Linked DNA regions of Homo sapiens: regions 1, 3 and 4 are each linked to region 2. Evidence: fine-mapped expression QTL. A gene starts in region 2. Each other region holds a variant in brackets. All regions are shown on one strand. Distances are between the middles of the regions. Region 1 overlaps UBOX5 (U-box domain containing 5). Region 2 holds the start of UBOX5 (U-box domain containing 5). Region 3 overlaps UBOX5 (U-box domain containing 5). Region 4 overlaps UBOX5 (U-box domain containing 5).

The links. PIP is the estimated chance that this variant, and not a neighbour inherited with it, causes the effect.
Region 1: its variant is the best candidate, but not a certain one, in a credible set for the expression of UBOX5 in sun-exposed skin (GTEx, PIP 0.50).
Region 3: its variant is the best candidate, but not a certain one, in a credible set for the expression of UBOX5 in prostate (GTEx, PIP 0.68).
Region 4: its variant is the best candidate, but not a certain one, in a credible set for the expression of UBOX5 in thyroid (GTEx, PIP 0.52).

The regions. Positions count from the first base shown.
Region 1 is chr20:3,117,172-3,122,171 of GRCh38, reverse strand. UBOX5 (U-box domain containing 5) reads left to right here. Exons shown (of 5, transcript NM_014948.4): 3 at 1-788. The region is part of intron 5 of UBOX5-AS1 (UBOX5 antisense RNA 1); the gene reads right to left. Among named protein-coding and RNA genes, the nearest start is that of UBOX5-AS1, 13 kb to the right of the region's middle. The variant A/G (reference allele first, on the strand shown) is at 3,066.
Region 2 is chr20:3,156,988-3,164,862 of GRCh38, reverse strand. UBOX5 (U-box domain containing 5) reads left to right here and starts at 4,998. Exons shown (of 5, transcript NM_014948.4): 1 at 4,998-5,097. FASTKD5 (FAST kinase domains 5) reads left to right here and starts at 4,998. Exons shown (of 2, transcript NM_021826.5): 1 at 4,998-5,097. LZTS3 (leucine zipper tumor suppressor family member 3) reads left to right here. Exons shown (of 5, transcript NM_001365618.1): 5 at 1-2,246. The coding sequence ends at 409.
Region 3 is chr20:3,136,715-3,144,589 of GRCh38, reverse strand. All of the region lies in intron 1 of UBOX5 (U-box domain containing 5), which reads left to right. The region is part of intron 6 of UBOX5-AS1 (UBOX5 antisense RNA 1); the gene reads right to left. Among named protein-coding and RNA genes, the nearest start is that of FASTKD5, 19 kb to the left of the region's middle. The variant A/C (reference allele first, on the strand shown) is at 5,681.
Region 4 is chr20:3,127,927-3,135,801 of GRCh38, reverse strand. The region is part of intron 1 of UBOX5 (U-box domain containing 5); the gene reads left to right. All of the region lies in intron 5 of UBOX5-AS1 (UBOX5 antisense RNA 1), which reads right to left. Among named protein-coding and RNA genes, the nearest start is that of UBOX5-AS1, 25 kb to the right of the region's middle. The variant A/G (reference allele first, on the strand shown) is at 2,677.

The DNA of each region.
Region 1 (5,000 bases), 41 kb after region 2:
CCAGGAGCTCTGGAATAAAGGGGCTCTTTCCCTTAGCCACGTGGCCCACTTAAGGATCTGTATCACCCATGTGACAGGCGGCGGTATCCCTTGTATCAAGCGGTTGGAAGTGTGGGGTCAGCCGGCCAAGACCTGCTCCCAGGAAGTGATAGACAGCATCCTGCTGGTCACCTCAGAGAACCTGCCTCAGGATGTGGCTCTGCAGGCTCCAGCCTTGCCCATGGAAAGTGACTGTGACCCTGGGGACCAGCCTGAGAGCCAGCAGGCTCCCTCCAGCCTGCAGAAGCTGGCCGAGATCATTCAGGATGTGCCTGAGGAGTTCCTGGATCCCATCACCCTGGAGATCATGCCTTGTCCCATGCTGCTGCCCTCAGGCAAGGTCATCGACCAGAGCACACTGGAGAAGTGTAACCGCAGTGAAGCCACATGGGGCCGAGTGCCCAGTGACCCTTTCACGGGGGTAGCTTTTACTCCGCACTCTCAGCCCCTGCCTCACCCCTCCCTCAAGGCCCGGATTGACCATTTCCTGCTCCAGCACTCCATCCCTGGCTGCCACCTGCTTGGGAGAGCACAGACGGCATTGGCAGTGATCCCTTCTTCCATTGTTCTGCCCTCTCAGAAAAGGAAGATAGAGCAGGCTGAACATGTCCCAGACAGTAACTTTGGTGTAAATGCTTCCTGTTTTTCTGCCACAAGCCCTTTGGTCTTACCCACTACCTCAGAGCACACTGCTAAGAAAATGAAAGCCACCAATGAGCCCAGCCTGACACATATGGACTGCTCGACAGGTAATTCAGCATCCTGTGTCCGCAGCCAGGCTCATCCATCTCCTTCCCAGGAGCTCTCAGCTCTGCTGCCCTTTGCTTTGTGCTTGGCCAGCTTACATTCCCGAGGCTGTGCCTGTGCTGCCTCCTTCCCGTTTCCCATCCTGGGGCCCCTCAGCTTTGTCTTCAGACCAGGGACAACCTGGAGCCTTGGAGGGGTTCCATGTGTTCTCGTCTATTCTCATCTGTTCCGAGGCTTCAGTCTGCGTGTTTCGCTCCTCTGTTGGTGATGGTCCCATGGGCACTGTTGCCTTCCTTGGGGTCCCTTTATGTGCCCTGGCCTGGTCAACACTTTTTCCTGGGCTTGAAGCCTCTGGTCAGAGCTGCTGGGAGGAAAGATACCAGTCCCTCAAAGCAGAGAATCTCTTCTGGTGCCTTCTTTGTGTTACTCATGTGACAGTGGGCTCCTCTGGGTGTTATTTCTAACCGTCACAGAGGTACAAGGATATATTGCATGGAGGTTCTCTGTGCGCCCCCCTCACCATGTGGCATGAGGACACAGAAAAGGAAAAAGGACTAGGTCTGTGGGCCTTCCTTTCAGGAGAGGGTTACTGAAGAGAAAAGCCACACTGAAGAGGGTGCACTCAGTAAATGTGTGGACAAATTGCAATATTCTCTTTGTGTTTTTTTCTGTTTTTCTTCTTTATTGCATTTGGCAGGATCCACCAGGTAAAATTGCAACAATCTTTTTTTTTTTTTTTTGAGATGGAGTCTCGCTGTGTCGCCCAGGCTGGAGTGCGGTGGCATGATCTCGGCTCACTGCAAGCTCTGCCTTCCGGGTTCACACCATTCTCCTGCCTCAGCCTCCCGAGTAGCTGGGATTAGGCGCCCGCCACCACGCCTGGCTAAGTTTTTGTATTTTTAGTAAAGACGGGGTTTCACCTTGTTAGCTAGGATGGTCTCAATCTCCTGACCTTGTGATCCACCCACCTTGGCCTCCCAAAGTGCCGGGATTACAGATGTAAGCCACTGCACTCGACTTCTGTTTTTTTTTTTTTTTTTGAGATGGAGTCTCGCTCTGTCACCAGGCTGGAGTGCAGTGGCGTGATATTGGCTCACTGCAACCTCCGCCTCCCAGGTTCAAGTGATTCTCCTGCCTCAGCCTCTGGAGTAGCTGGGATTACAGACGCGCGCCACCACGCCCAGCTAATTTTTGTATTTTTAGTAGAGAAGGGGTTTCACCATGGTGCCCGGGATGGTCTCAACCTGTTAACCTCGTGATCCACCTGCCTCGGCTTCCTAAAGTGCTGGGATCTGCAAGCCACTGTGCCTGGCCTGCAACATTCTTGAGTATGAGATTTAAGGATCCTGGCTTCCTGCCTCTTCCCTGGGGCATTGCCAGTGATTTCTAGGGCCGGTGATGCTGCTCTCTCCTGAGGTGAGCAGCCCTGGTTCACTGGGTGACCTCTGCAGCTGAATGTGTTCAGTGTGAATACCTCAGGGCAAGCTGGATGTTGGATCTTAGGCTGAGATAGATGTTTTTTTGTTGTTGTTGAGATGGAGCCTCACTCTGTTACCCAGGCTGGAGTGCAATGGCGCAATCTCGTCTCACTGCAGCCTCCGCCTCGCAGCTTCAAGCAATTCTCCTGCCTCAGCCTCCCAAGTAGCTGGGATTACAGGCATGTACCACCACACCGGCTAATTTTTTGTATTTTTAGTAAAGACAGGTTTTCACCATGTTGGCCAGGTTGGTCTCGAACTCCTGACCTCAGGTGATTCGCCCACCTCAGCCTCCCAGAGTGCTAGGATTACAGGTATAAGCCACCGCGCCTGGCCTGAGATAGATGTTTTTATCATGTTAAAGAAGTATTGGTTATCTATTGCTAGGTAACAAATTACCCCAAAACTTACTGGCTTACAGCAACAAACATTCATTGTCTCATAACTTCTGTGGATCACAAATCCCAGCGTAACTTGGCTGGATTCTCTGCTTCAGGGTCTTCCAAGTCTGCCATCAAACTGGTGGCTGAGGCTGTGGTCATCTCAAGGATCAACTGGGGAAGCATTTACTTCTAGTCTCACCCACATCATTGTTGCAAGATTCAGCTCGTTGATGCATTGTTGGACTGAGGCCTCACTTGCTGGTTGGCTGTTGGCCCAAGGCTGCCCTCGGTTCCTTGCCTTGTGGGCCTCTCCATAGGGCAGTGTACTGTGTGGGAGCTGTGCGTTCCAGAGAGAGTGCACAGACGAGGGAAATCCATCTTTTAGAATGTAATCTTGAAAGTCACACTCCTCACTTCT[A/G]TTGTATTCTTATTTTTCCCAAGGTATTTGTTAATTGCTTATTTATAATATTAAGAGAAATGATTTCTTAGCCTCCATCTTCATATTTCTTAGTTCGAGAACACAGATCAGTGACAAACTTCTGTGTAATTCAACCTAAATAATTCCTTCCTTCCTTCCTTTTTTTTTGAGATGGAGTCTCACTGTGTCACTCAGGGTAGAGTGCAGTGGTGTGATCTCGGCTCACTTCAATCTCTGCCTCCCGGGTTCAAGCAATTCTCATGCCTCAGCCTCTGGAATAGCTGGGACTATAGGTGCGTGCCAACACGCCTGGCTGATTTTTTTTCTTTTTTTTTGAGACGGAGTCTCGCTCTGTCGCCCAGGCTGGAGTGCAGTGGCGCGATCTTGGCTCACTGCCAGCTCCGCCTCCCTGGTTCACGCCATTCTCCTGCCTCAGCCTCCTGAGTAGCTGGGACTACAGGCGCCCGCCAGCACACCTGGCTAATTTTTTTAATACTTTTAGTAGAGACGGGGTTTCACTGTGTTAGCCAGGATGGTCTTGATCTCCTGACCTCATGATCCACCCACCTCGGCCTCCCAAAGTGCTGGGATTACAGGTGTGAGCCACTACACCTGGCTGATTTTTGTATTTTTATGAGGCAGAGTCTCACTCTGTCACCCAGGCTGGAGTGCAATAGCACAATCTTGGCTCACTGCAACCTCTGCCTCCTGGTCTAAGCAATTCTCCTGCCTCAGCCTCCAGAGTAGTTGGGATTACAGGTGCCCACAACCGTGCCCAGCTAATTTTTGTATTTTTAGTATAGACTGGGTTTTGTCATGTTGGCCAAGCTGATCTTGAACTCCTGACCTCAGGTTATCTACCTGCCTCAGCCTCCCAAAGTGCTGGGATTACAGGCATGAGCGATAGTGCCCGGCCTGTTAATGGTTTCTTTTTGTTTTGTTTTTTTGGAAACAGTCTCCCTCTGTCGCCCAGGCTGGAGTGCAGCAGTGACGCAATCTCTGCTCACTGCGACCTCTGCTGCTGGGATTTAAGTGATTCTCCTGCCTCGGTAGCCAAGACTACAGGCGCACAGCACCATACTGGCTAATTTTTTTTATTTTTATTTTTATTTTTTGAGACAGAGTCTCATTCTGTCGCCCTGGCTGGAGTGCAGTGTCGCAATCTCTGCTCACTGCAACCTCCGCCTCCCGGATTCAAGTGATTTTCCTGCCTCAGCCTCCTGATTAGCTGAGATTACAGGCGCTCGCCACCATGCCTGGCTAATTTTTGTATTTGTAGTAGAGATGGGGTTTCGCCATGTTGGCCAGGCTGGTCTTGAACTCCTGACCTCAGGTGATCTGCCTGCCTCAGCCTCCCAAAGTGCTGGGATTACAAGTGTGAGCCACCACGCCCAGCCCTGTTATTTATTTATTTATCTATATAGTGACGGAGTCTCGCTCTGTCGCCCGGGCTGGAGTGCACTTGTGCGATCTTGGCTCACTGCAACCTCTGCCTCCTGGATTCTAGCAATTCTCCTGCTTCTGCCTCCTGAGTAGCTGGGACTACAGGCACATGCCGCCACACCCGGCTAATTTTTCGTATTTTATTAGAGACGGTGTTTCACCATGTTGCCCAGGCTGGTCACAAACTCCTGAGCTCAGGCAATCCACCCGCCTTGGCCTCCCAAAACTCTGGGATTACAGGCATGAGCTACAGCGCCTGGCCCCTGTTAATAGATTTTAATGGTTCTGTTTGCTAGTGTTAGGATTTTTGTATTCATTAGTGGGGTTGGACTGTAGTGTGTGTGTGTGTGTGTGTGTGTGTGTGTGTGTGTGTGTGCCATCTTTGGTCAGGTGTCATTGATGATTTTTTTGTTCCATAGAAAGAATTTAGAATTTTTTCTTTTCTGTGCTGTGGAACAATTGAATAGTATTGGAATACCCACTCTGCCTGTC
Region 2 (7,875 bases):
CGACGAGGCTAAGATGCGCCGTCAGGCCGGGGTGGCCGCTGCCGCCTCCTTGGTTTCCGTGGACGGGGAGGCGGAGGCTGGCGGGGAGAGCGGGACGCGGGCCCTGCGGCGGGAGGTGGGGCGGCTGCAGGCCGAGCTGGCGGCTGAGCGGCGGGCCCGGGAGCGCCAGGGTGCCAGCTTCGCCGAGGAGCGCCGCGTGTGGCTGGAGGAGAAGGAGAAGGTGATCGAGTACCAGAAGCAGCTGCAGCTGAGCTACGTGGAGATGTACCAGCGCAACCAGCAGCTGGAGCGCAGGCTGCGGGAGCGCGGGGCCGCAGGGGGTGCAAGCACGCCCACTCCCCAGCATGGCGAGGAGAAGAAGGCCTGGACCCCCTCCCGCCTCGAGCGCATTGAGTCCACAGAAATCTGATCGACCTGGGCACTCGGCATTTTGACACATGTCCTGTCAAAAGGCCAGAGTCCCCAGTGTCCCCTCCCCTCCATCTCTCTTCCCCATAGACCCCATAACCCCAGACCAAAGAGGTTCTCTAAGCAGCTGTGACCAGGTTCCTCCCTCCCCACCTGCCCTCCTAGCTCCAGCACTGCCCCCGTGGCAGCCCACTTGGACCCCCCTAAAAGGAGGGAATAGGAGGAGGGCAGGGTGAGTGGGGGCAATCCTAGGTGGTGGGGGAGTCATGCTCCCTTTCTCGGCACCCCCTTGTTGGAGATGGAGGCAGCAGACGTGCAGTGCCATAAGGTGCCCCAGTCCTTCTGGAGGCCTGGGCTGCTACTGTTGGCCACCCTGTGTCTAGTGATGCTCTCTGTGCTCACCTCCTAGGCCATGGAGCCTGAGGGGGCCTGCACCAGGTTTGCTGAAACTGACAGAGCCTGGGCTCCAGACCTCTCTCCCTCCTACAGTGCTCTCCCTCCCTGGGCAGATTGGCAGGACAAGTGGGAGCAGATGGCCTGCCTTTGGCTGAGAGGGCTACCTGCCCAGCCCCTCCCCCAACAAGATCTCTTGGACTCAGGCCTCAGAGCCTGGCCTGGTTGTGAGTGTGTGTCCCTGTGTGTGTGTTGCGGGAGGGGAGGACTGGGGCTGGAAGTCCAGCACCCAGGGAAGATCTGTCCTCCTGTTCTTGGGAAGCGTTGCCTGACGGCTTCTCGGCTCTACCCTCACCCTTCTGGCCAGGATCCCGCAGGGCAACAGCCCCATCTGCTTGGCTGACCCCACACCCAGGACCACTGTCCGGCTCTAACACAGCTATTAAGTGCTACCTGCCTCTCAGGCACTCTCCTCGCCCAGTTTCTGAGGTCAGACGAGTGTCTGCGATGTCTTCCCGCACTCTATTCCCCCAGCCTCTTTCTGCTTTCATGCTCAGCACATCATCTTCCTAGGCAGTCTCTTCCCCAAAGTCTCACCTTTTCTTCCAATAGAAAATTCCGCTTGACCTTTGGTGCACTGCCCACTTCCCAGCTCCACTGGCCCAAGTCTGAGCCGGAGGCCCTTGTTTTGGGGGCGGGGGGAGAGTTGGATGTGATTGCCCTTGAAGAACAAGGCTGACCTGAGAGGTTCCTGGCGCCCTGAGGTGGCTCAGCACCTGCCCAGGGTAGGCCTGGCATGAGGGGTTAGGTCAGCCAATGTCAGCTGCTTCTCTTGGGGCCCTCTCAGAGTCTATCTCCCCAAGACAGGAAGGGAAAAGCAAATTTCTAATTCACCAGCAATAAAAATTGGAGGAGGCTTGGCCCTCAGCCCTTATATCTCTCTCTTTTTCACTCTCTTCCTCCCACCCCCAAGACTGAGTTTTGGGGGGCAAGGTGGAGAGAGCTGGCAACTACTGTGAGCAAGTCCCCTAGCCCCTGACCAGCCTCCTCCCATGACTGGTGACTGTTTAATGAGCTGTGCATCCCCCACAAAAACATGAGTGCCCCTCTGTGTGGCCTCTAACCCTCTGCACAGCCCTTCTGGGTGGTCCTCACCAGGTCTCTGAGCTGGGTGGGAGGCCATCCTGGCGACCACTGCCCATTCCATTCACCCCTCACTGTACCTGCCCTAGAACCTGGGCCTAGGCCACAGGGGCAGGGAGAAGAGAAGGCATTAGTAAGAAAAAAATAGAAAAAAATATGAACAGACTCAGCTTTGGGACGTCCAACCACAAAAGAAATTATATATAAATATATATAAATATATATCTCTACCATATGTGATGGAAAGACTTTTTGTTTTCCTTTCCCAAAGAAATAAAACGGAAAAAGCCTCTTGAGTGGTATTCTTTGGCCTGCTTGTGTCTTTGCAGGTGCGGGAGGTGAGGCCCGGGTGGGGGATGGGGGCAAAGCTGGAGTAAACAGATTTCCCAGAGGAGGCATGAGACTGGAGGTGCTCACTGGGCCGTGCTAGGAGGTTGGCCCAAAGCCCAAGTTCTGCCACGTTGCCCGGGAAGAGTCGTGGTGCCATGTATATGCCCAGTGGGGCTTTCTCTTCAGCTCAGACTGTTGCCAAAGGGGTTAAAAGCTGGCTCCAGCTCAGAATCTGGACACTAAGCTGCTAGCCAGAAAACAGGTGACGCAGGACAGCTAGATGCAGCCTGCAGTCGCCTAAGCCACCTTACAGCAACTGGTAGATGTTTGCGGGCTGAATGGATAGAAGTGAAGACTGGGAACAGGTTTGCAATTAATGGCGAAGCCCCAAAGGCAAAAGGGACCCAAGCGTGCTGCACAGCAGAGAGCTTCCCTTTACAACAGTTCCTCTGTCATCCTCTCAAAGCACACAATCAAGAATGCACTCTGCTGTAAGTAATCAAAGGACCTCAAAGAGTGGTTTATTTTTCCCCAACCTGACAAGAAATCCGGAGGTGGTGTCATGGTTGTTGGATCCTCGGGGACCTAGATTTTCATCCTCCCACTGTTCCATCCTTGGCATGTTGTTCCCTCCTTACCACAAAGTGGCTGCCACAGCTCCATGAAGACATTGAGGCGGCCCTACTTTATCATGAAAAGTAAAAGCTTTCCCAGAGCCCTCCCAGGACCCTTCCCTTTAAGTCCTGTTGGCCAGAACTGAGCCACATGCTCCTCCCACTTCAAGGGAGAATGGGAATTTGAGTATTACAAAGAGAAACAGGATTGTCATGGCTGCCTAGGAACAAACATGGTTCATTCCTTGGGGGCAGGCTCTCTGCTTTCTCTGGGTTCTACTGGCAAGGACAGAGTCATAACAATGAATAGTGTTTGCCCTGGTCTGGCCTGAGGGAGAGAACCCTCCCTAAGCAGTGGTGTCTGTGGTCTGGGGCTCCAGATATTCAAACAGCGCTGTCTCCAGAGCTCAGGAGTTGGGATGTCAGGCTTGCCCCTCCTGGCAGGGACGTGTTCTTCCTACATTGATTTTGTCTTCCCTACAAGATAGGCCCTGGAGGGAGCATGATTTCTCAGCTCTCCTTCACACCCCTTAGAGCCAAGGCATTGACAAGATATGAAGACCCTGATCAGCAGATCTCAAGTGCCCTCAGGAATGGCAGCCTGGGGCCAGGACTTTCTGATAGGTAGAGGTTTAGTAGAGTCTCTTTCTTGTCTAGGTACCTATACTGACAGCTGTGTCAATATATGTACCCAGTAGGACCCAGCCCTCCTTCTTAGGGTGGTGGAGAATCACCCTGGCTCATGCTCCATAGCTCTGGCCTCGCTAAGCCCCAGCTCCACATCCATTTCTCTCAGCAGGCTCATCTATCCATCATGTCACTAGCTCTTTTCCTGAGAGCACTTTACAGATACATCTCTATTATAAATGCATTAAAAAAAAAAAAAGATGGAGTCTCACTGTTGCCCCGGCTGGAGTGCAGTGGTGCAATCTCGGCTCACTGCAACCTCTACCTCCTGCGTTCAAGTGATTCTCCTGCCTTAGCCTCCCAAGTAGCTGGGGTTACAGGTGCACGCCACCATGCCCCGCTAATTTTTTTTTGTATTTTTAGTAGAGACGAGGTTTCACCATGTTGGCCAGGCCGGTCTCCAACACCGGGGATTACAGGTGTGAGCCACCACACCCGACCAATGCATTGTTAAAATTAGACAGGTGTGGTGGTGCATGCCTGTGGTCTTAGCTACTCAGGAGGCTGAGGCAGGAGGATCACTTGAACCCAGGAGGTTGAGGCTGCAGTGAGCCATGATTGCACCATTGCACCCCAGCCTGGGCAATGGGGCAAGACTTTGTCTCAAAAAAAAAAAAAATGTATTGTTTTTCTCACTGTACAGGCTTAGAGAATTTATGTGGGCCGGGTGCGATGGCTCATACCTGTAATCCCAGTACTTTCGGAGGCTGAGGCGGCAGTATTGCATGAGCCCAGGAGTTCGAGACTAGCCTGGGCAACATAGGAAGACACTGCCATCCCCGTCTCTATGAAAATAATAATAATAATATAACAAGAATGAATTTATGTGACTTCTCCAAGGCCATAAAACCCTGAGTGGTGGTCCTCAGATTTGAACATGTGTCTAAGCTACTTACTTTTTTTTTTTTTTTTTTTTTTTTAGATGGAGTCTCGCTCTGTGTCCCAGAGCTGGAGTACAGGGGTGCCCAGACTGGAGTACAGTGGCGAGATATCGGCTCACTGCAACCTCCGCCTCCCGGGTTCAAGCGACTCTCCTGCTTCCGCTTCCTGAATAGCTGGATTATAGGCGTGCGCCACCACGCCCGGCTAATTTTTGTATTTTTAGTAGAGACGGGGGTTTCACCACGTTAGCCAGGCTGGTCTCGAACTCCTGAACTCAGGTGATCCGCCCGCCTTGGCCTCCCAAAGTACTGGGATTACAGGCGTGAGCCACCGCGCCGGGACTAAGCTGCTTAATGACTTCCAGAGCGATCCATCCAGGAAGGTGTTTTCCCTCTGCAGGTCCTAGACTCCCCCTGCCTCCTCAACAACGTCCTCCAGTGGAAAATGTCCTTGGGAAACGCTGACAGAGTCTTTTGAGCCTCGGCCGCATCCGTCACTCGCGCAGCAGGCGGAAGTAGCGGGCAGTTGGCCGGAAGTGGGGCTGTGAGGCTCGGAGTCGCCGGAGGAGCCAGTATCTGTGTCGCCGCCGCCCGCGGCGTCCCCGGTTTGGTGTTGCGGCGCCCACCTTCGGGAGGATCAGGTGAGTGGCGGCGGCCGGGGAGGAGGTCGCGGCGGCCTCTTTCCGCGTTCACGACCGTCCTGGGCCTTGGCCTGTGCCTCCTGTCCTCCCGGCCGGCCCAGAGCTGGAGCGCATCGAGGCCTTGTTCAGCTCTTGGCCTGGGTTGCCAGTGCCTCTCGCAGGCCTGGCTGTGGTGAGAACTTCAGTGACTCTCGCCGCTCCTGAGTTTGTGATCTTTGGCAGGGGGCTTATCTGACCCTTGATTTTTTTTCCTCTGTGAAATGGAGATCGTAACAGTACTTGTCTCACGGTGCTGTTAAGAGAATGTAGTCAGATATTCTGCCGCGCCTCTCATCACACTTTGATGTGCCTGCGAATCGCTTAGAGATTCTGATTCTGTAGGACTGGGGTGGGTTCTGAGATAACTGTGTTCCTAACTAGATTCCAGACGAGGCTGAAGCCTCTGGCACGCAGACCACACACTGAGTAGCAAGGCCCTACAGTATGTTGCTTAGCATTTGGGATGCGGAGTCTTCGGTAAACATCAGTATGATAGGATATATACCTTCCCCCCATTTTTAGCAGTTTCTCGTTGCACAAGCCTAAGGGTAGTATTGATGGCCTTCTCCCTTTTTCTTTCCGTGGGTAAGAATAGTTGCTCTTTCTCTTTCTGTGCAAACCGTGACACAGCTCTTCTGTCTTGACTCAGGGAACTTTGGGTCCCCTCATATCAGCTGTGTTCATCAGTCTTGGGTGATGCTTCACTGATCAGACCCTTGGACAGTGCTTCATCCTGTGGAGCTGATAGCCAGCTGCGTTAGCACCAACTGTGGCTGGCGTTTTGTGCTCCAGTCATTTGTTGCTGCTGGAATCTGAATTCACGTTTTCTACACTTTGTGAATAGTAAGAATGGCTGCCTTTCCAGAACTAGATTCTGTAGCTCACTGACCTGAATGGTCCTGGGCAAGTCCTTGGATAGTTTGCTACTACCTGGTAGACTAAAATAAAATCTGGGCCGGACACAGTGGCTCACGCCTGTAATCCCAGCACTTTGGGAGGTCAAGGCGGGCGGATCACGAGGTCAGGAGATCGAGACCATCTTGGCTAATATGGTGAAACCCCGTCTCTACTAAAAATACAAAAAAATAGCTGGGCGTGGTGGCGGGCGCCTGTAGTCCCAGCTACTCTGGAGGCTGAGGCAGGAGCGTGGCGTGAACCCCGGGAGGCGGAGTGTGCAGTGAGCCGAGATCGCGCCACTGCACTCCAGCCTGGGCGAGAGAGCGAGAGTCCGTCTCAAATAAATGAATAAATAAATAAATAAATAAGTAAATAAAATCTGAAGACTCTGTGCTGCATAACATAACTTAAAAAGTGAGGCCTTTGGCAGTTATGCAGGTCTAATGTTTATTAGTCAGTATGATTTTCTTCCCCATCCATTGGTTTATTTTTTTAGTCCCTAATAAGGCCTTGCCATTCATCATGTGAATAAGTCAACTTTGATATAAAATAATTCTAAGGTCAGGTGCGGTGGCTCATGCCTGTAATCCCAGCACTTTGGGAGGCCGAAGTGGAAGGATTACTTGAGCCCAGGAGTTCGAGACCAACCTGGGGGCAACATAGGGAAACTCTGTCTCTACGAAAAAAACAAAAAACAAAAAAAACACACAAAAAAACAAAATGTAGCCAGGCGTGGTGGTGGGCTTGTAGTCCAAGCTACTTAGGAGGCTGAGGTGGGAGGATCGTTTGAGATCCTTGAGCGATCCTCGCCCGGGAGGTTGCCGGGGTGAGAGGTGGGGGGCAGTGGTCGAGGATGCAGTGAGCGGAGATTGCACCACTGCCCTCCAGACTGAACAACAGAGCGAGACCCTGTCTGAAAAAAAAAACAAAAGAATTCTGAAACTCCTTCTTTATTTGTCTGAAGTATGTACTATACAGCCTCTATACAGCCTTGCAAATTGTAAAAGCAGATAAAACCAAGTGTTTATTGAGCTAACAGTTATAGGTACTTGGACCATTTATTTGGGAATTTTCTCTTATGACGACTGTGTGCATGCAGCTACTTCTCTTTACCTGCCTGGATTTTGTAATTCCTCTAGAAGCCCCATTTAGATGGGCTGAGAGGACATGAGTGCCTACTGCCTGTTGTTATATGGAGAGGTTTTCTAAAGACAGGGTTTTATGAAACCCTTTAAAAGCAGTAGCTCTAACAGAATCATCTACAGGGCTTAGTCATACTATATCTACCCACATCCTTCTTGCCATTCTGATAGAGGAATAGCAGAGTCTTAAAAGAGAAGCGGAAGGGCTGTGTAGCTGAAAAAGTTTCACAAATGTTTGTGATGTGCTGTTTTTCTCCTATCAGCATGGAGTCTAGAACAAAAAGGAAGGGATGGATTGCTAGACTGAATAATTTTAGTTTGGCTTAGACCTGCGAGTGACACTGAACTTGACCTAAACACCTTTGCACTAGTGCTTCACCTTCGCAGTACTGGTAGACTCCTCTCTGAGGCCCTGCTCCCGTGTGGAAACAGAAACACAGAAGAGTCTAGCCCAGTTAACATCCACATTAACAGCTAAGGTCCTTACTGCCAGTCTCTAAGCCCTCACTAGGGGCTTTGAAGTTTTGTAGATTCTCAGCAGAATACCTCAGCACCTAGAGAAAGTTCGGTTTTTTTGCCCTTTTTTTTTGGTAGAGACAGGGTCTCGCCATGTAGCCCAGACTGGTCTTGAACTCCTGGCCTCACGTGATCTGCCTGCTCGGCCTTCCAAAGTGCTGGGATTATGGTCATGAGCCACCTG
Region 3 (7,875 bases), 20 kb after region 2:
GGTATCATATTTAAGAAACCATTGCCAAGTCCAAGGTCAGGGAGATTTACCCCTATGTCTTTTCTCATAGTTTGAGCTCTTTATATTTAGGTCTTTGATCACATTGAGTTAATTTTTATATGTAGCATGAGGGAACAGTCCAACTTCATTCTTTTGCATGTGGATATCTAGTTGTCCCAGCATCATTTGTTGAAGAGGATATTCTTCCTGCATTGAATGGTTTTGGCATCTGTGTCAAATCAATTGACCATACATGTGGGGGGTTATTTATGGATTTTCATTTCTATTCCATTCATCTATTCTTATGCCAATACCACATAATTGGGAAGTATGAGTCCTCCAACTTTGTTATTTTTCAATATTGTTTTGGCTACTCATGGTCCTTGCACTTCCATATGAATTTTAGGATCAGTTTGCCCATTTCTGCAAGAAAAGCCTTTGGGCTTTTGATAGGGACAGTATTGAATCTGTCGTTTGCTTTGGGGAATTTTGCCATCTTGACAGTATTAAGCCTTCTAATCCATAATCATGGTATATATCTTTTAATTTATTTAGATTTTTAATTCAGGAATGTTTTATAGTTTTCAGTGTATAAATCTTACATTTTCTTAGTTTTTTGTTTTGTTTTGTTTGATATAGGGTCTCGCTCTGTCACCCAGGCTGGAGTGCAATGATGTGATCGTAGCTCACTGCAGCCTCAAATCCTGGGCTCAAGCGATCCTCTAACCTCAGCCTCCCAAGTAGCTGGTACTACAGGTGCATGCCACCATAACTGGCTAATTTTTTTTTTGTTTTTTTGAGACGGAGTCTCACTCTGTCACCCAGCTGGAGTGCAGTGGTGCGATCTCGACTCACTGCAAGCTCCGCCTCCCAGGTTCAGGCAGTTCTCTGCCCAGCCTCCCGAGTAGCTGGGATTACAGGCACCTGCCACCACGCCCAGCTAATTTTTTGTATTTTTAATAGAGACAGGGTTTCGCCATCTTGGCCAGGCTGGTCTTGAACTCCTGACCTCGTGATCCACCCACCTCGGCCTCCCAAAGTGCTGGGATTACAGGTGTGAGCCACTGTACCCCGATGTTAACTTTATTCCTAATTATTTTATTCTTTTTTATGCTATTGTAGATGCAATTGTTTTTAAAACTTCTTTTATGAGTTGTTAATTGTGAGTGTTTAGAAATACAGATGATTAATCAGGCATGGCGGCTCACACCTGTAATCCCAGCACTCTGGGAAGCTGAGGCGGGCAGACCACTTGAGGCCAGGAGTTTGAGACCAGCCTTGCCAACATGGTGAAACCTGTCTCTACTAAAAATGCAAAAATTAGCCAGATGTGGTGGCACACACCTTAGCAACTCAGGAGGCTGAAGCATGAGAATCACTTGAGCCTAGGAGGCAGAGAGGTTGCATTGAGTTGAGATCATGCCACTGTACTCCAGCCTGGGTAACAGAGCCAGAGACTCTGTCTCAAAAAAAAAAAAAAAAAAAAAAAAAAGACAGATGATTAACCTGCTATTGTGCTTAATATTCATTTGTTAGCCCTAATAATTTTTTTTGTTGCTGTGTGAATTTTTCAGAATTTCCTATATATAGGCTCTTTTCATCTGTGAATACAGTTTTATATCTTCTTTTCCACTTTGGATTCCTTTTTTTTCTTTTTTCTTGCCTTATTGCTCTGGTTGGAACTTCTAATAAGATATCGAATACAAACAATGAAAGTAGGCATCTTTGTCTTGTTCTGGATTTTAGGGGAATGTTTCCAGTCTTTCACCTACCATTGGGTATATACACATACTTTTCTTTTTTTTTTTTTTTTTTTTGAGACAGAGTTTCTCTCTGTCGCCCAGGCTGGAGTGCAGTAGCGTGATCTCTGCTCACTGCAGCTTCTGCCACCCAGGTACAAGCGATTCTCGTGCCTCAGCCACCCAAGTAGCTGGGATTACAGGAGTGTGCCACCAAGCCCGGCACCTTTTTTTTTTTTTTTTTTTTGAGACGGAGTCTCACTCTGTCACCCAGGCTGGAGTGTAGTAGCACGATCTCAGCTCACTGCAACCTCCACCTCCCGGGTTCAAGAGATTCTCCTGCCTCAGCCTCCATAGTAGCTAGGATTATAGGCACCCACCACTACGCCTGGGTGATTTTTTTTGTATTTTTAGTAGAGACAGTGTTTCGCCAAATTGGCCAGGCTGGTCTCAAACTCCTGACCTCAGGTTATCTGCCCACCTTGGCATCCCAAAGTGCTGAGATTACAGGCATAAGCCACCATGCCTGGCCAATTTTTTTTTGTATTTTTAGTAGAGATGGGGTTTCACCATGTTGCCCAGGCTGGTCTCGAACTCCTGGCCTCAAGTGATCTGCCCACCTTGGCCTCCCAGAGTGCTGGGATTATAGGTGTGAGCCACCAATACTGACCTTTTTTTTTTTTTTTTCTTTTTGAGACTGTCTCACCCTGTTGCCCATACTGGGAGTGCAGTGGCACTATCATGGCTCACCGCAGCCTCGACCTCCTGGACTCAGGTGATCCCTTTTGCCTCAGCCTTCCAAGTAGCTGAGGCAAAAAAAAAAGAAAAGAAAAGAAAAGAAAAAGGGTCTCACTCTGTTGCCCAGGCTGGAGTGCAGTGGGATGATTATGGCTCACTGCAGCCTCAAAATCCCAGGTTCAAGTGATCCTCCTGCCTCAGCCTTCCAAGTAGCTGGGACCACCTGTGGGCACACTACGACATCTGGCTAAATTTTTATATTTTGTAGAGTGGAGTCTTTCTATGTTGCCAAGGCTGGTCTTGAACTCTTGGGCTCAAGCAATACTCCTGCTTCAGTCTCTCAAAGTGTTGGGATTACAGGCATGAGCCACCACTCCCGGCTGAGTATGATGTTAACTATGGGGTTTTTATAAACCTTTTATCATGTTGAGGAAGTTATTTTTTATTTTTATTTATTTATTTTTTTGAGACGGAGTTTCGCTCTTGTTGCCCAGGCCGGAGTGCAATGGCATAATCTCGGCTAACCACAACCTCCGCCTCCCGGGTTCAAGTGATTCTCCTGCCTAAGCCTCCCAAGGAGCTAGGATTACAGGCATGCACCACCCCCAGCTAACTTTGTATTTTTAGTAGAGACGGGGTTTCTCCATGTTGGTCAGGCTGGTATCAAAAACTCCTGACCTCAGGTAATCCACCTGCCTCGGCCTCCCAAAGTGTTGGGATTACAGGTGTGAGCCACCACACCTGATGAGGAAGTTATTTTTTATTCCTAGTTTGCTGATTGTTCAATAAATATAATATGCAGCAAATATTCTTTATTTTTAAAATTTTTTCAGCACACACCACTTTTCAGATTAAGTGAACATTCTTTATTTTTATTTGTTAAACCTGGCAACTGGCCGGGTGTGGTGGCTTACATCTATAATCCCAGCACTTTGGGAGGCTGAGGCGGGCGGATCACCTGAGGTCAGGAGTTCAAGACTAGCCTGTCCAACATGTTGAAACCCCGTCTCTACTGAAAATACAGAAATTAGCCGGGCATGATGGCACGTGTCTGTAATCCCAGCTACTTGGGAGGCTGAGGCAGGAGAATCACTTGAACCTGGGAGGCAGAGGTTGCAGTGAGCTGAGATTGTGCCACTGCACTCAAGCCTGGGTGACAGAGTGAGACTCAGTCTAAAAAAAAAAAAAAAAAAAAATCTGGCAACCCTAAAAAAAAAAATAGATGGGAGAGAGGGAGGGGAGAGGGGGCAGCAAAGGTTGAAAAACAAACTGTTAGTACTATGCTCAGTACCTGGGTGACATGATTATTTGTACCCCAAACCTTAAGCATCATGCAATATACCCAGGTAACAAACCTGCACATGTGTCTCCTGAATCTAAAATAAAAGTTGAAAAAAAAAAATCTGGTAACCCTAAGAAAGATGCACCATTAAACCAGCGTGGTTTTTTGTGGGAGGAGTTGGCAGAAGAGCCTTGAATGTGTTTACATGTTGACGATAGGTTTCAGTAGTCAGAGGTAAGTTGAAAATTCAGGAGAGAAGCAAGAGCAGATGGAGTAGGCCATGGAGGAGAGGGAAAGGGTTAGGGTTAGGGTCAGGTTTTATGTTGGAGAGACTGGCCACCTCACCTGGGTTCCCGTAGAATTTTGCTGACACTGTTACTAAGGTGCTGAGTAAATGGTAGTAAAAACCTTTGTAGATCTTGTTTTGAGACTGAGTCTCTCAGGAGAAAGACGGCTTATCTGTGCCTTGTTTTGAGCCTATACATTTCTTAAACGTAAAAACTGGGCTGGGTGCGGTGGCTCACTCAACGCCTGTAATCCCAGCATTGTGGGAGGCCAAGGTGGGCGGATCACCTGAGGTCAGGAGTTCGAGACCAGCCTAGCCAACATAGTGAAACCCCATCTCTACTGAAAATACAAAAATCAGCTGGGCATGATGGTGTGTGCCTATAATCCCAGCTACTCAGGAGGCTGAGACAGGACAATCGCTTGAGCCCAGGAGGTGGAGGTTGCAGTGAGCTGAGATTGCACCATTGCACTCCAGCCTGGGTGACAGAGTGAGACTCCATCTCAAAAAAAAAAAAAAAAAAAAAAAAAGTAAAAAGGCCGAGTGTGGTGGTTCATGCCTATGATGCCAGCATTTTGGGAGGCCCAAGTGGGCAGATGACAAGGTCAGGAGTTCGAGACCAGCCTGGCCAACATGGTGAAACCCCATCTCTACTAGAAATAAAAAAATTAGCTGGGTGTGGTGGTGCATGCCTGTAATACCAGTTACTCAGGAGGCTGAGGCAGGAGAATCGCTTGAACCCAGGAGACGGAGGTTGCAGTGAGCCAAGATCGTACCATTGCTCTCCAGCCGAGGTGACACAGCAAGACTCCGTCTCAAAAAATAAAAATAGGTTGGGTGCAGTGGCTCACGCCTGTAATCCTAGCACTTTGGGAGGCCAAGGTGGGTGAATCACCTGAGGTCAGGAGTTTAAGACCAGGCTGTCAGGAGTTTAAGACCAGGCTGGCAAACATGGTGAAACCTCGTCTCTACTAAAAATACAAAAAAATTAGTTGGGTGTGGTGGTGGGTGCCTGTAATCCCAGCTACTCAGGAGGCTGAGGCAGGAGAATCGCTTGAACCCACGACGGGGAGGTTGCAGTGAGCCGAGATCGCGCCATTGCACTCCAGCCTGGGCAACAAGAGCAAAACTCTTGTCTCAATAAATAAATAAATAAATAAAAATTAAAAATAAAGAGGAAAAACTGAGTCTACTTGTGCCTAGCACATGTTAAGCCCTTAGAGGGTGACTTGGCTCCACGTGGTATAAAACTGCAGGCTTCTTTGGGGCTCTAACCTGTGTTCTGGTTTTTTTGCATACCTCTCACTGGTGGGTAACTGTGTGGGATGGGCTGGGACAACTGTCTTTCATTTTAACCAGTTGTAAGAAAAAGGCACATGAGTCAAACTTTTTTCATGGATGGACAGGTAACTCAATTTAGAAATTATAAGAAGTAGTGCACTTCTTTAAAAGCTGAAGTGCCCAATTTATGAAATTGCTCAGTGCATTGATATTCCACCCACTCTTTGAGGTGAAATGCTTTTCTCTTACTTGACAGGTAATCTTTTCTTCTTCTTTTTTTTCCCTTCTGTAACCTGTTTGAGTCTAGTCTTTAAAATATGTGTGTCTGCCAGAATTACTTTTCATTACATCTCT[A/C]TGAGACTCAAAATCAGATTGTATAACGCAGCTATGGTAACTTTGTAGGCTGAAGGAAGCTGGATGCTGAGGTGTTCAGAAAGTGTCATGGTCACCTTATTCTCTTCTAAATTATCCTTCCACACTTCCCTACCCCCAGGTGCTGAACCTCAACACCAAAAACAAAAGGTTTGTTGGTTGCTTCAAGCTCCAAGGAAGCACAGACAACAACCTTCGAGACAGGGCAACCAACTCTTCCAAGTTTGCCCAGGTTTTAGCACCAAAAGTACTATGTTCTGGAAAACTCCTTAGCTGTGGGTATGCCAAGACAGTTGGCCACTCAACTCCTGGATCCCTTCTTGGCCCTTCCCTTGCACTTCCCTTTCTGAGCCCTAGTACTGGCAGCTGCAAAAAGTACTCTGAACATAAATCTCAGTCTTCTCCGCTGTTATCCTGAGACCTCAGGCATACATCAACTTTCAATACATAAAAGGAAAAGAAGAACAACTTATCCCACCAGCCTAGTATGTCGGATGTTTACATTTCTGCATGCCCACCATTACCTCTCCAACTATTTATGTATACATATTCCTAGACATAGATTTTTAACAAATGTATGATCATAATACTTTCATAATACTTTTTTTTTTTTTTTTGAGACAGTCTCCCTCTGTCGCCCAGGCTGGATGGAGTGCAGTGGTGTGATCCCAGCTCACTGCAACCTCCGCCTCCCAGGTTCAAGCCATTCTCTCACCTCAGCCTCCTGAGTAGCTGGGACTACAGGCATGCGCCACCATGGCTGGCTAATTTTTGTGTTTTTAGTTGAAACAGCATTTCACCATGTTGGCCAGGCTTATCTCAAACTCTTGACCTCAAGTGATCTGCCCACTTTGGCCTCCCAAAGTGCCGGGATTACAGGCGTGAGCCACCATGCCCAGCCTATATATACTTTTGCATTTTCCTGCATAGTTATATTTATCATTTAAGTGACATGAATGCCAAGACTAAATGTGTCACTCAAGTTTGTTTCTTACAGTGTGGGCAGTGAGCTTAACTGGAGTCTTCAGCCAAGGCTTAGATCTGGGTGAAAAATTTCAAGACTTCTGTGGAAGTAGAGTATTTGGATTTATAAGATAAAAGACTTTCTAAAGGATAACATGAAATTCTTGTGATAAAAGTGTTCTGTATCAACTGTGGTTGTGATTACCCAACTTTGCACATAGAGTAAAATTGCACTGAACTAATTAGATAGGCACACACAAATGAATGCATGCAGACCTGGTGAAATCTGAAAATCGGTGAATCATTACCAGTATCAGTAGGCTGGTTATGAAGTTCTAGTATAGCTATGCAAGATGTTACAGCCAGGCACGGTGGCTCACACTTGTAATCCCAACACTTTGGGAGGCTGAGGTGGGTGGATCACCTGAGGTCAGGAGTTCAAGACCAGCCTGGCCAACATGTTGAAACCCCGTCTCTACTAAAAATACAAAAAATAGCCAGGCATGGTGGCGGGCACCTGTAATCTCAGCTACTCAAGGAGAATCACTTGAACCCAGGAGGCGGAGGTTGCAGTGAGCCTGAAAGAGTATGTGGGATCTCTCTGTATTGTTTTTTAACAACTACACATGAGTCTACAATTATCTTTAAAAGTTTAATTAGATCTTTTAAAAAGAAACAATTTCTGGTTGGGTGTGGTGGCTCACGCCTGTAATCCCAGCACTTTGGGAGGCCGAGGCAGGTGGATCACTTGAGGTCAGAAGTTCGAGACCATCCTGGCTACCATGGTGAAACCCTGTCTCTACTGAAAATGCGAAAATTAGCCAGGCATGGGTCATGCCTGTAGTCCTACCTACTTGGGAGGCTGAGGCACAAAAATTGCTTGAACCCGGGAGGTGAAGGCTGCAGTGAGTCGAGATTGCCCCACTGCACTCCAGCCCGGGCATCAGAGTGAGACACTGTCTCAGAAAAACAGGGACTGGGTGCAGTAGCTCACGCCTGTAAACCCAGCACTTTGGGAGGCCAAGGTGAGTGGATCACGAGGTAAGGAGATTGAGATAATCCTGGCTAACACAGTGAAACCCCGTCTCTACTAAAAATACAAAAAATTAGCTGGGCATGGTGCCAGGCGCCTATAGTCCCAGCTACTCGGGAGGCTGAGGCAGGAGAATGGCGTGAACCTGGGAGGTGGAGCTTGCAGTGAGCTGAGATCATGC
Region 4 (7,875 bases), 29 kb after region 2:
AACTTTTTTTTTTTTAACTACAACCTTTAGTAAGAAATAACTTTTACATCAAAACCCCAAATGAATAATTGCGTGTGTTTGTGTGTTCACATATATATGTAACTGAAACAAAACTTTCACAAAACAGTGCTCACCCTTGTATGTGGTGCATGCTGACATTTTCTATTCTACTTAATTTTTAAAAATACTAGTTATGGCTCGGTAATTTAAGTTCTTAATTCTCAACCTGCAGTTTGGGAAACACTACCTCAGCCTACTAAGTGAAGTAGTCTAAACTTTTTGGCATGACGTTCAAGGCCTTCCTCATCCGGCTCCGTTTGCCTTCCCAGCTGTGGCTCCTACTCCACCTCCATAGCTAAGTGGCATGTTCAGCATCTCCTGAACCAGCCTCACACTTCCCTCCTCTGTGCCTTGACACTTCCTGATCCCTTTCCCCAGGGCTCCTTCTCTTTTGTTCATGTTCTCACCTCTTGGCTCCTGTAGTCTACAGTCTGTGGTAGCATTAATATGGAGTGTCTGTCCCTCTTCAGAGTTGTCCATGAGATCAGGCATGTGTCCTAGTCACCCTAAGTTCACATGTTTACTCCTGTGAATTTTCCCCTGAGTTGACCAATGTTTTGGTCAAAACTTTTGACCAACGTTTTTTTAAAAAAATTTTTTTTATCAAGTCACAATAAGAAATGCATTTTATATTAGATGATATACATGCATTTGTTAAATATATTTGTACAAAACTGAAACAATTTCATGACATATCCATACTATTTGCACCTTCATATTTTGTATTCTCTTCTAATTATTTCTTTTCTTTAACCCATTACTTGATTCCAAAAACCACAAATTGAAAAACATTGATCTAGGTTATCTTTCCTTACTGTGTCATCCGCAGAATGCTCTGTTACCTTTATATTATGTATATAAATTTTTTTTTTTTTTGAGACGGAGTTTCGCTCTTGTTGCCCAGGCTGGAGTGCAGTGGCACGGTGTCGGCCAAGTGCAACCTCCACCTCCCGGGTTCAAGTGATTGTGATTCTCCTGCCTCAGCCTCCCGAGTAGCTGGGATTACAGGCGCCCGCCACCATGCCTGGCTAATTTTTGTATTTTTAGTGGAGATGGGGTTTCACCATATTGGCCAGGCTGGTCTTGAACTCTTGACCTCAGATGATCCGCCTGTCTGGCCTCCCAGAGTGCTGGAATTACAGGCATGAGCCACCACGCCTGGCCTTTTTTTTTTTTTTTTTTTTCAGATGGGGTCTCACTCTGTTACCCAGGCTGGAGTGCAATGGTGCGAACTTAGCTCACTGCAACCTCCACCTCCCGGGTTCAAGCATATATTCTATTATATAATCACTGTTAGAAAGAAGTCTTTATTGTCTCATGACTCACAGAGAAGGCCGTTCATTTCATTTCTTATTTTTCCCACAAGAAGATTTGTAGAGAATGTTTATTGCAGCATTTTTTTCATAGTAAAAAATTTTAAACAACATAAGTAATAGGGCAGTGGAGAAACTGTTTTAGTCATACAATTAAATATGAGGAAGTTAAAATGAATACACCAAATGTAAACATTTCAATATGGAAAACCTTAATATAATGCTTAATGGAAAAGCAAGTTGCAAGATGATACACATAATATATTATCATTAAGGTATATTAAAATACATGACTACTATATGTAGTTTATATATATATATGCATACCTATACTGATTTGAATGACAGACAACATTAGATAAAGCTTACCTTAGCCGGGCAAGGTGGCTCACACCTGTAATCTCAGCACTTTGGGAGGCCAAGGTGGGTGGATTGCCTGAGCCCAGGAGTTTGAGAAGAGCCTGGGCAACATGGTGAAACCCCATCTCTACCCAAAAAACCCCCAAAAATTAGCCGGATGTGGTGGTGCGCGCCTGTAGTCCCAGATACTCGGGAGGCAGAGGTAGGAGAATACCCATCACCAGAGCCCTGGAAGTTGAGGTTGCAGTGAGCCGAGATTGCACCACTGCTTTCCAACCTGGGCATGGGAGTGAGAGCCTGTTTCCCCCCCCCAAAAAAAATAAGAAAAAAAAAGAGCTTACCCCTTGGCAAAAAGAGAGAGGAAATAGGATAGGTGCTGGGTTTTGTTTTTATCTTTTAAATATTGCTTTTAACACTGAAATCAGAAGCAAACATAGCAAAATGTTAACATTTGCTAAATCTAGGTGGTAGGTACAAGAGTGTCTACTATTTTATATTCTTTTTTTTTTCTTATAAACTGTATTGCCATCTTACAATGCCATTATTATCTGTCTCCAAGCTACTTCTCTGAAAGCAGGGCACATTAGCCACAATCTGAGGTTTTAGATTAAGTTATACTCAAGCCTTGTCTTTCTTGTACTTAGATGCCACATCTGGAGAAAGTGGCTATGCTTTGTAAGTACTGGACAGTGTTTGCAGTGAGTTCAAGTTACATGGCCATTTCCTCAGCAGGACTAGGGAGGCCGTCTTTCTGGGCTAGGCTGTTTGCATTTTCATATGTTGAGCCATTATTTTTTTTCTGTTAAGGCAGAAGGCATCTGACCTTAAAAGTCCAGGGTATTGGAACAAGATAGATGATGAGATTATACCTATTAAAGACTTTGATAGCAACCAGGTTCTTACGGAATCCTACTGTTTGGACATCACTGTTTCCCACAGAAAC[A/G]TATCATTTGTAAGATATTTTTAAAAAAGATCTGCCATTCTCCTGTGACAACACACTCATTCGTTTCAATTTGCATATTTCAATTTGATCTTCAGTCCTGAGTTGTTTTCAATCACTTTTTCCCCCAATCATTCTTTATTATTATTAATTATTTAATTTTTTTTTTTGTAGAGACTGGGTCTCGCTATGTTGCCCAGGCTAGCCTTGAACTTCTGACCTCAAGCAATCCCCCTGCCTTGGCCTCCCAAAGTGCTGGAATTTATAGGTGTACACAACCCCACCCAGCCATTTCTTTTTTTTTTTTTTTTGAGACAGTCCCACTCTGTCACCCAGACTGGAGTGCAGTGGCGCTATCTTGGCTCACTGCAACCTCCGTCTCCAGGGTTCCAGCAGTTCTCCTGCTTCACTCTCCCAAGTAGCTGGGATTACAGGCACCTGCCACCACACCCGGGTAATTTTTTGTATTTTTAGTAGAGACGGGATTTCGCCATGTTAGCCAGACTGGTCTCGAACTCCTGACCTCAAGTGATCTGCCCGCCTCAGCCACCCAAAGTGCTGGGATTACAGGCATGACCAATCACGCCTCGTTTCACCCAGCCATTTCTTTGTTATTATTATTATTAATACACCTTATAATTTAGAGCAGTTTAGATTTACCTAAAAATTGAGTATTATTAATGCTATTAACATCTTAGTGCGGTACATTTCTTATAACTAATGAGCCAATATTGATTAATTATTATTAAGTTTATAATTTAAGGTTCATTCTTTGTGCTGTATAATTCTTTGTGTTTTGTTTTTGTTCTGTTTTGTTTTGAGACAGGGTCTCACTCTGTTGTCCAGGCTGGAGTGCAGTGGCGTGATCTCGGCTTACTGCAGCCTCTGCCTCCTGGGCTCAAGTGATTCTCCTGCCTCAGCCTTCAGAGTAGCTGGGATTACAGGCATGCGCAACCATGCCCAGCTAATTTTTGTATTTTTAGTAGCATCGGGTTTTCACCATGTTGGCAAGGCTGGTCTCGAACTCCTGGCCTCAACTGATCCTCACGCCTTGGCCTCCCAAAGTGCTGGGATTACAGATGTGAACCACCACGCCCAGTTTTTTTTTTTTTTTTTTTTTTGAGACAGTGTCTCACTCTATTGCCCAGGCTGGAGTGCAGTGGCTCGATCTCGGCTCAGTGCAACCTCTGCTTCCCAGGTTCAAGCGATTCTCCTGCCTCAGCCTCCCCAGTAGCTGGGATTACAGGTGCCCGCCACCTTGCCCGGCTAATTTTTTATCTTTAATAGAGATGGGGTTTCATCATGTTGACCAGGCTGATCTCGAACTCCTGACCTCAAGTGCTTTGCCCGCCTTTGCCTCCCAAAGTGCTGGGATTATAGGCGTGAGCCACCACGCCCAGCCTGTGTTGTATAATTCTATAGGTTTTGAATTACAGGTTTTGAATATATAGGTTTTGAAATGTATAATGTCATGTATCTACCATTACAGTGTAATACAGAATAGTTTCACTGCCATTTCATTTTTATCTCTATACTCCAGTGCCTAGCACAGGGCTTGCAAATGTTCCATGAATGTGCAATAATATCCCATCTAAAATTAAATATGAGCAAAATAAATTCAGTAGTACAGTACATTTAAAGAACAATATGCTACAACCAAATAGAATCTCTCCTGGGAATAAAAAGGATGGTTTAAAATTAGAAAAAAGTGTTAATGTATCCCATTAGTCTGTCAGATAAGATAAATAATAAAAGACAATATATAGAGAAAAATCAGAATTCAGAGCATATTCCTGACTTCAAAAAATATGAAAATTAGAATGCTTTATTAACATAAAGATGATATTTCAATCTAACAATCAACATTATGTTCAAAGAGGCATTTTCTTTTTTTTTTTTTGAGATGGAGTCTCACTCTGTTGCCCAGGCTGGAATGCAGTGGCATGATCTCGGCTCACTGCAACCTCTGCTTCCTAGGTTCAAGCGATTCTTCTGCTTCAGCCTCCCGAGTAACTGGGGCTACAGGCTCACGCCACCATGCCTGGATAATTTTTGTATTTTCATAGAGATAGGGTTTCACCATATTGCCCAGGCTGGTCTTGAACTCCTGACCTTATGATCTGCCCGCCTCGGCCTCCCAAAGTGCTGGGATTACAGGTGTGAGCCACTGCGCCTGGCCCAAAGAGGCATTTTCTAATGGGCACAAACGAGGATGGCAACTGTCTTACTGTTTTGTGTAATTCCGGAAGTTCTGGCTAATGCAGTAAATGAGAGACAGAAATAAGAGTTACCATTTTGAGAAAGGAATTCTCATTATTGAGATAATAGGATTGTAAAAAAAAAAAAAGCAAAAACAACTGAAAATGTGTTAAAATCAATAAGAGTTCAATAAGACAGCTGAACATATAGTAAAGATACCAAAGTGAAAAGCTTTCCTATATAGGAATGACCAGTTAGAAAAATTAATGGGTTAAGAAGAACCTTTCATAAATAGCAACCTTAACTAGAAACATGTAGGACCCCTTGAGTAAAAAAGTGAAAATTGTACTAAAGGAAAAAATAATGACAAAAATCTACTTAAGATTTTGATCTTAAGGTAGTAGTAAAAAGTTGCAAACAAGTTGGGTTTGGTGACCCATACCTGTAGTTCCAGGACTTGGGGCACTCAGGCAGGAGGATTGCTTGAGCTCACGAATTTGAGGCTGTGGTGCACTGTAATGGCACCTGTGAATAGCCACTACACTCCAGCCTGGGCAACATAGTGAGACCCTGTCTTTAAAAAAAAAAAAAAAAAAGGCATAAACAACCTAAATGTCTCCCAAAAGGAGAATTATTTATGCCCCCCACCCTCTTTGTTTGTTTATTTATTTATTTATTTATTTATTTATTTATTTATTTATTTTTGGAGACAGGGTCTCACTCTGTCACCCAGTCTGGATGGAGTACAGTGGTGTGATCATAGCTCACTGTAGCCTCAAACTCCTGGGGTCAAGCCATACTCCTGAGTAGCTGGGACTACGGACACATGCCACCATGCCCAGCTAATATTTTTAAAATTTTTTGTAGAGATGGCATCTCACTTTGTTGCCCAGGCTGGTCTCAAATTTCTGGCCTCAAGCAATCCTCCTGCCTTGGTCTCCCAGAGTACTGGGATCACAGGCGTGAGCCCCTATGCCCAGCATATTTATACCCCACTTTGTTCCAAAATTATTTTAAGCTACCTTACATATTATGCTCTATTATATAAAAATAAATAATTCAGGTAGGGAGAAATTTGAGGGATGGGCCACAGATTTTATTCGGAGCTTTCTAACAGCCAGAGTCAAGAAGGAATGTGATCCATATTCATACCATAAAATATTGAATTGCTTGCGATAAACAACTCTTCTAGTACTGAGACCAAAGAGAAAATTTTCTTATGGGTCTCCAAGAGAGGATACCATATAGAACAGACAATGATCATTTTGTCCACTAAACAAAACAGTAACTGACTTTAAAGAGCTGTTTCTTATTGAAGTTCCTTGTCACACAGTGCCAATGAGTAGCTTGGTGAAGAGTATTTGCAGGGGGTGGTGAGGGTGGTGATGGTTGTGGCTGGGATGAACATGAGGATAGGCCGGTGCACTGGTCTGAGGGTCAGCTCAATGGAGTGGTATATTTTAGAGATTAAAATTATGGTTATCACCTGATATGTCCTGCTACTCTGGTGTCCTATGAATCGTCACAAGTCGGCCACTGAATTTTTATCAATGTGTTACATTTATTTTTGCAACTGGTGAGGATCAAAACTGCTAAGAAATCTGTCAGATAGTGGTGTGGGATAAGATCTGCAGCAGCCACGAGGAGTGCCAGACAAGAGGCAAGAGAAGCTACTTGGACCAGCACCAAGGAGCATGTAACGGGGCTGGACTGAACACTCTTCTGTAAATGTTCCCTCAACTTATATTTTGATGAGTGCTGTGGAGAGCAGGTAGTCTGTGTCTGGTCAGGGTTAGGTCCATATGCTTTTGTAGTTGACTGGGGTAGTTGACAGCCCCTGACGCGGGTGGAGAAGCCTCATGAGCTGAGATGCTTGAACAGAAGGCTGACTCGCTTCCACACAGAGGTGGGAAGAAGTAGCTAAGGGTATACCAAGATTTTCCTTAATTTCAGGTCTGATCTAACACATATTGGAAAGGGCAGTCAAGGTTTCCACATTTCTATATCATAGAGCATAATAACCACATTTAAGTCTAGAAGAACTCTTATTTTATTTTACTTTATTTTTTGAGACAGGGTCTCACTGTCACTCAGGCTGGAGTACAATAGCACAGTCATAGCTCACTGTAACCTTGCACTCCTGGCTTCAAGTGATCCTCTTGCCTCCGCCTCCCAAGTAGCTGGGACTAGAGGTGTGTGCTACCACACCTAACTAATCTTTTTATTTTTTTGTAGAGACGGGGTCTTGCTGTGTTGCCCGGGCTGATCTCGAACTCCTGGGCTCAAGTGATCCTCTCACCTTAACCTCCTAAAGTGTTCGGATTATAGGTGTGAGCCACTCCGCCCGGCTTTGTTTTTTCTTGGCTTTCTGTCAGGGCCAAGAGGGGAAGAGGGAACTGCCTGGAGCAGTGAAAAGAAAACCCTCTCAAGTCCCAGGGCCCCAACCTCAGCCATCTGCCTGGGGCCAGCACCGTTCTGCATATGTCTGTCTCTAGTGTCATCATCTATGTCAGTAGCATATTGTCTGCTTTCCTTTGGCATCCTAGGCTTGCTTTTCCAAGGAGGAATGTTTTATTTCATTGGCTTGGCTATATATTTATTTTAATGGTTCTATATTCAATTAAAGTGAATGGCTTAATTTTACATTTAAAACAAACCGACAGGAAGCTACTATGCTAGTTGGGCAGGGAAGCTGGGGGAAATGCTGCTCTAAATGAGTTCTGGTGTCCTGGCCAAAAAGAGGTAACTATAGGGCTTCTGAGGATATTTGTAGACACAATGCATCAGATACTTCATTTGTTTTTACTTATCGTGGAGAACACGAAAGGTATCAGAAGCCTGGAGACATTGTTAATATAATCTTTCAGAAAAGGAATTGTAGAAACTTTAGTCCATGTGGATGCCAGGCCAGATTCTAAAATTCTCTGGCAAAGCAAAGGTGTATGTGCCTCAAAGTGGGAAGCACTAGGAGTTTCAACACAGGCTCACAAAGAACAGGAGGCT